2 linked regions of the Homo sapiens genome follow. The protein of the gene in region 1 interacts with the protein of each later gene in a pairwise test. Each region holds a gene or a part of one and is shown in the gene's direction. Other genes may lie near its edges.

The links.
Region 2: the proteins of DISC1 (region 1) and DNAJC7 interact in binary tests that used the Homo sapiens proteins (3 or more experiments, as listed by UniProt).

Annotation. Positions count from the first base shown.
Region 1 is NC_000001.11:231,629,790-231,633,538, forward strand, and holds part of DISC1 (disrupted in schizophrenia 1 protein), read left to right. Parts: intron 1-3,749. UniProt on the Homo sapiens protein: Involved in the regulation of multiple aspects of embryonic and adult neurogenesis. Required for neural progenitor proliferation in the ventrical/subventrical zone during embryonic brain development and in the adult dentate gyrus of the hippocampus.
Region 2 is NC_000017.11:41,982,777-41,986,525, reverse strand, and holds part of DNAJC7 (dnaJ homolog subfamily C member 7), read left to right. Parts: intron 1-618; exon of another isoform or gene 619-2,889; coding exon 2,890-2,963; intron 2,964-3,749. UniProt on the Homo sapiens protein: Acts as a co-chaperone regulating the molecular chaperones HSP70 and HSP90 in folding of steroid receptors, such as the glucocorticoid receptor and the progesterone receptor.

The DNA of each region.
Region 1 (3,749 bases):
CTTTTTCTTTTTTTAAAATCTAAAAATTTTGATTGGAGAAGGATTAGAGACTAAATTGTTGATATTTGAATTTTATTGTGGTTTTGGTTAAAGTTTGATGCAGGACCTTCAGAGCAAAGAGAGGGTACAATGGTGACCTTTAAACAATATATATATTTTTTGAGACGGAGTCTCGTTCTGTCGCCAGGCTGGAGTGCAGTGGCACGATCTCGGCTCACTGCAACCTCTGCCTCCTGGGTTCAAGCGATTCTCCTGCCTCAGCCTCTCGAGTAGTGGGATTACAGGCGCCCACCACCACATCCAGCTAATTTTTGTATTTTTAATACAGACAGGGTTTCACCATGTTGATCAGCATGGTCTCGATCTCCTGACCTTGTAATCTGCCCGCCTCAGCCTCCCAAAGTGCTGGGATTACAGGCATGAGCCACTGCGCCGGGCCCTTTAAACAAGATTTAAAGACCAGCACACAAAGTTTCTGAGTACAAAAAAAGGTAATATTTTAGGTTAGGGTCATTAGACCAGAATTAGAATCATTCTTTTTTTTTCTTTTTTTAATTAAAAAAGATGGGGTCTCCTTATTTTGGCCAGATTGACCTTGAGCCTCAAGCAACTTCTGCCTCGACCTCCCAAAGTACCAGGATTACAGATGTGAACCATTGCACCTGGCCAGAATCATTCTTTTGATAATAATGATGGTAATTGAGTTTATATGCTGTGTTCTCATGAATCCAAGCAGAGCCCACTGTTTCCAGAGATTCCCTTGGCAGCCACCCTGGGTTGAGGAGGGTCCCCTCCTGGCACAGCTGGAACCACCGGTGAAGAGCCATTTTTCAGTCAGCACCGTTTAGTAATATAAGACTTTTAGCCTCGAGGAGTCTTCCGTTGTTAGTTCCTAACTTTAATGACTTTGTGGTAAAAATTCCTTAGCGAATGACTTCTGTGCAACAATCATGTAATTTTTAAAATTCCAGATGCTTTAGCCGTTCAGAATCCATTTTTTCTTTCAAAACCAGAGTTCACCAGCTGTTTCTCTTGAGCGAAGACTTTGCAATGAGCTTTCAAATGTTCACACCAAGTAGAAGCAGGAAGGGAGAACTGTGGCTGGGCAATGAATGAAATACTGACATTTAGCTGTAGAAGGTAGGCAGGGGCTCACATGGTGTGCACAGCCCCTTATATGACTACTGGTCCTGTATCTGCTTCCTTTCCCTGCCCCATTTCCCCTTTGGCTTTTTGTCATGACTCAGAAATGGATGCTAGACATTATGGGGCTCCCTCCAGTCACTCGGGTCACTCGTCACAGACTTATAAACAGAATCACAGAACTTATTGTCAGATGAAGCTTCAAAACACCAGTTGGCTAAACTCCTTGTGTTCTGGCAGGTAAGATGTCGGCATCCTTATTTAACAAATGATGCTACTGAGAACTATGTATGCAGAGACATAGTCTCAAAATAAGTGCAGTCATGCCTCGCATAATGACGTTTTGTCAATGTCACATATGTGAGAGTGGTCCCATAAGATTATACTGGGCTGTCAATTTCCTAATGCCTAGTATTTACTATACATTTTAATGTTATTTTGTGTACTTCTACTTAGTAAAAAAAAGTTAACTGTAAACCCGCCTCAGGCAGGTCCTTCAGGAGGTATCAGAAGAAGGCATTGTTGTCATAGGAGATGATGGCTCCATGCGTGTTTTTGCCTTGAAGGCCTTCCAACGGGACAAGGTGTGGAGGTGGAAGGCAGGGATAGTGATGATCCTGACCCTGGGTAGGCCCAGGCTAGTGTGTGTGTTTGTGTCTTAGTTTTTAACAAAAAGTTTGAAAAGTAAAAAAATAAAAATTAAAAATAGGAGCTTATAGGATAATAAGGATATAAAGAAAAAATATTTTTGTACAGCTGCACAATGTATTTGTGTTTTAAGCTGTGTTTTTATAAAAAAGTCAAAAAATTAAAAAAATTTAAAAATTATTATATATAAAGTAAAAAAAGTTATGGTACGCTAAAGATAATTTATTGTTGAGAAAAAAATTTAAATGAATTTAGTATAGCCTAAGTGTACAGCGTTTATAAATACAGTAGCATGAAATTATGTCCTCAACCCTCACGTGCACTCACCACTCACTCACTGACTCACCCAGAGCAACTTCCAGTCCTGCAAGCTCCATGCATGATAAGCCTCCTATAGAGGTGTACCATTTTTCATCTTTTATAGTGTATTTTTACTGTACCTTGTCTATGTTTAGATATGTTTAGATGGAAAAGTACTTACCATTGTGTTACGGCTGCCTACAGTATTCAGTACAGTAACATGCTGCACAGGTTTGTAGCCTAGGAACAGTAGCTATACAATATAGCTTAGGTGTGTCATAGCCTATACCATCTAGGTTTTTGTGAGTACACTCTATGGTGTTTGCATGACAAAATGACCTAATGACACATTTCTCAGAAAGTGTCCCTGTCAATAAGTGATGCATGACTGTGATTGAAATAAGTAGCCCCACATTATTTTTCTCATGTCAACTTCAGGTTAATTTTCCAGCCACGTGGCCTTGTGCTTGCTCATCATAAAAAAATGTGGATAAAATTCTACCTGTTAAGCCACAACATTTGCCTGTCATGGGTGGACATTTACCGTTTATTTTCAGAGTTCAAAGTTTGAACTCTCAGAGAAATGCAAATAAGACAGTAAACTCCTCGAGGTGAGGAATGGCAATCTCTGAAGATAAATCATATATTTATTGTACAGTATTGAATGTTGTAAGTGGCAGTAGAGATCATGTAATCTGGCCTTCTTCTTTTACAGGTGAGAAAAGTGAGAAACAGCAGCAGAGTGATTGTTAGAACCTGGCTCCTCTTCTTTTACTTAGAACTGTTTTCATTAAGTTGTGTTTCATTTCATAGTTCTGTATAATTCATCCCTGCTTAAGATACATTAAATGAATTGAACTGAATCCCTTTTTTTTGAGCTATGATGGCTCTTAAAAACTTAGATTTTCAGCCAGGCGCAGTGGCTCATGCCTGTAATTCCAGCAGTTTGGGAGGCCAAGGTGGGCAGATGACCTGAGGTCAGGAGTTCGAGACCATCCTGGCCAACATGGCAGAAACCCATCTCTACTTAAAATACAAAAATCAGCTGAGCATGGTGGCGTGTGCCTGTAATCCCAGCTACTTGGGAGGCTGAGGCTGGAGAATCGCTTGAACCTGGGAGGCAGAGGTTGCAGTGAGCCAAGATCATGTCACTGCACTCCAGCCTGGGCTACAGAGAGAGACTCCGTCAAAAAAACAAACAAACAAAAAACCACGTAGATTTTCAAGTAATTACTATTGTTACACTAAATGTCAATGGATCCTTAAGAATCTATTTGTTCATGAATTCATTATTTATTCATTCAACGTTTATTGAGTGGCTACTTGGTTCAGAATTAGAATTAGCATGACAGCCACACATTAGAAAGGTATCACTTTTTGACTAAATTAAAAACTTGCTAAAAATAGTTATCCATTGATGGAATAGGCTACCCCGAAAGGCAGAGAGCATTTTGTCATTGGAAGTATGTAGGGCAGTGTGGATGACTCTAGGGTGACTGTCATGAGGGTTCTGCACTGGGGAGGGGGCTGCGTTGGATGATGAATGGGAACCCTTCCAGTGCTAAGATGCTGTGATCGTTGTCCTGCAGGATTGGGATTGTGCAGGATTTGAGCTACTGTGTAAATTTCCTATTCCCTGCTCATTGGGCTTCCACATT
Region 2 (3,749 bases), on another chromosome or scaffold:
GGGGAGAATCACCTACATGTCCAGTGGGAAGGGGGTGGCTAGATACTTGATACTGTATGAACTTAATGGAATGCTCTGTATATGGAATGCCAGGGGATGGGAAGAGAAGAGAAAAATCGCTTTGTTTTATTTTTTGGGATGGAGTCTCGCTATGTCGCTCGGGATGGAGTCTCGCTATGTCGCTCAGGCTGGAGTGCAGTAGCACCGTACTGGCTCACTGCAACCTCCACCTCCTGAGTTCAAGCGAATTTCCTGCTTCAGCCTCCGAAGTAGCTGAGATTACCGGCGCATGTCACCACACCCAGCAAATTTTTGTATTTTTATTGGAGATGGGGTTTCATCATGTTGGCCAGGCTGTTCTCAAACTCCTGATGACAAGTGATCTGCCTGTCTTGGCCTCCCAAAGTTCTGGAATTACCAGCAGGTGTGAGCCACCGCGCCCGGCCTTTTTTTTTTTTTTTTTTTTTTTTTTTTTTTTAAGCAAGCCCCCAACACCATAGAAAATTCTTGATTTGCTCGGAGGATAATTGGATGAAGGATTATTTTCTTCTTTGTTTATGTGCAAGAAATGAAAATAAGGAATTGCTTTGATCAGACAACTTCTTATCTTTGTGGTAGAAACAGAACTGCCCTTCTTGGAGTGGCTCTGCCTCTGAGATCACTACAGGGGAGACAGCATGCCCTGTTCAGCTGGCTGAATATTTGGCAACAATCTCCTGAAGCAGCTGGAATTGACAAGAAGTACTGGAGATTAGCTCGGGCCAAACCCTTACATCTGGCCTGACTACTGCTGCAGTCTGCCTCAACTTACCCCTAAAGCTGGGGAGATGCCACCCACCCACATCTTTGCTACACATGCCATCATGAGCTAGAGTTCACCCTTTCTCCTTAAAGCCCTATTTACTTTTCTACTTCAACTTTAAAACAAAATTAAAATGTGAGGATATCCCTGAATTTTAAAAAGCATGAAGTAAAAATGCAAATTAGTATAGTTTGTTTAATACATTACATATAGACCTAAAGAAAGTTCATCAGGGTTAATCATTTGTCACATCATTCTATACCCAGGGCTATCAGCTATCAATTTTCCTTTTTTTTTTTTTTTTAATTCAGGATCCAGCTCTGTCACCCAGGCTGGAGTGCAGTATCAAAGTATCATTTCTCTTACTTCAAATTATTACATTTTATTCTGTACATTGATTCTGAACTCCTAATATAATATTTATGTCCTGTATTTGCAGGCCATTGGTTTTTTTAAAGTCATAAATCAAAATGATGCCAGAAAATCAAAGATGCCCAAGATGTTGGGCTTCTCTTTTGCCAGCCACATTGGTAGCACTCTCCTGCCCTGGCCTCCAAGCTGGTGGGGATCTGTGATGTTTGTGAAAATGGGCTTATGCCAGGCGCAGTGGCTCACGCCTATAATCCCAGCACTTTGGGAGGCCGAGGCGGGCAGATCGGTTCAGGTCAGGAGATCGAGACCAGCCTGGCCAACATGGTGAAACCCCATCTCTACTAAAAATACAAAAAATTAGCCAGGTGTGGTGGCACATGCCTGTAATCCCAGCTACTCAGGAGGCTGAGGCAGGAGAATCACTTGAAACCTGGGAGGCGGAGGTTGCAGTGAGCAGAGATCGTGCCATTACACTCCAGCCTGGGCTACAGAGTGAGACTCTGTGTCAAAAAAAAAAAAGAAAGAAAATGGGCTTGTGTGGTAGCAGGTAAGAAATTGAATCTCTGTTGTACAGCAGCTAGCTGTACTGCATGATCACTTCCCATTCCCCAGCTGACAGTGGCTGTCTCTGGAACTCCTACCACAGTCTTCAATTGGTAGGCCAGCCCTGGTGCCAGTGATTTTATCTGGGCATGGAAAATGCCACTTGCTTCTGTGGAAGAGACACTTAAAAGATCTGGCAGTCGGCCGGGTGCGGTGGCTCACGCCTATAATCCCAACACTCTGGGAGGTCAAGGCAGGCGGATCACGAGGTCAGGAGATGGAGACCATCCTGGCTAACACGGTGAAACCCTGTCTCTACTAAAAAAAAAAATAAAAAATTAGCTGGGCGAGGTGGCGGGCGCCTGTAGTCCCAGCTACTCTGGAGGCTGAGGCAGGAGAATGGCGTGAACCCAGGAGGCGGAGCTTGCAGTGATCCGAGATCACACCACTGCACTGCAGTCTGGGCAACAGAGCGAGACTCCATCTCAAAAAAAAAAAAAAAAAAAAAAGATCTCGCAATCATCCTGTCAAGCTTGATTCCTCCGATCTTGGGCCAAGGGCCCCTCCTTTCTTTTGTGCTACTGAAATAGAAGCAAACCTGTGTTTAGAGTTCCCTTTTCTGTCTCATTTACCTGCATCTCTCATTGATTGGTCTTAGTGGAGGGATTTGCCAGCAGCTGCCACGTTGAACTTGATCCTTTTAGTGGCTCACTAATCCCACCTCTATTCTGGATTGTAGCTAGTCCTGCATGTTTATGGCACTATAGGTTTCAAAGCTCTTTCATACCCATTTATTCACTTGATAATTTTTCTCTTGTGTGTTTCAACCCAAAGTAATCAAGTAGATCCCTTCACATTGTCTTTTCTAAGGCAGTCCAGTACCTCTTAGGTGGCTGTGTGTCAGAAGGAACTTTTTCCTCTTGATTACTTTCTGCTCAAAGCTGAACATCACTTTGCTGGTTGGATGCAAGTGCCATGCGACCTCTCTTTTTATTTCCTTGAGGACTTGTTAGCTAATTTTCTCTCACTGCTAGATTAAGGGCTCCTGTTTCTGAAGCATCTTACCAGAAGTGTGTGTCTCTTGCTTGAGCCATGCCTCTTGCCCTAGAGTGATCCTGAGAACCACTGCTATTTATGTCTTAGTGCTGTATTGCCTTGTATTTCCTTCTCAGTTACATGGACACAGAACAGTATGAAGAAGCAGTACGAGACTATGAAAAAGTATACCAGACAGAGAAAACAAAAGGTAAGTTTAAAAGCATTTGTTTTTTAGGGAACTGTGTGGACTTCGTAGGCCATAAATCTGTACACAAGGTAGTTTGATTCAGGGATCAGGGATCTACCTAGAACTTATTTGATCACCAGCCAGAAAGAAGTGAACAAAGGCTGGGCGTGGTGGCTCACGCCTGTAATCCCCAGCACTTTGGGAGGCTGAGGCAGGCAGATCACCTGAGATCAGGAGTTGGAGACCAGACTGGCCAACATGGTGAAACCCCATCTCTACTGAAAATACAAAAAATTGTGGGTATGGTGGTATACGCCTGTAATCCCAGCCACTCAGGAGGCTGGGGCACGAGAATTCCTTGAACCCAGGAGGCGGAGGTTGCAGTGAGCTAAGATTGCGCGACTATACTCCAGCCTGGGTGACGGAGCGAGACTTCATCTCAAAAACAAAAACAAAAAAAAGAAAAAAAAAGTGAACAGATATCTTGGGTTGGGGCATGAGGCACCTATTTTCTGGTTCCAGATCCTCCCTGTCGTTTTCATTTCATTTTTTGTGTGGTGAGGCTAAAGTGAGGAACCTAAGTCTGGGTAGATTTTCTTTTTTCTTTTTCTTTTTTTTTTTTTTAAGATGGAGTCCTGCTCTGTCACCCAGGCTGGAGTGCAATGGCATGATCATAGCTCACTACAACCTTTGCCTCCCAGGTTCAAACAATTATCCTGCCTCAGCCTCCCGAATAACTGGGATTACAGGCACATGGTACCACGCCTGGCTAATTTTTTGTATTTTTAGTAGGGATGGGGTTTCACC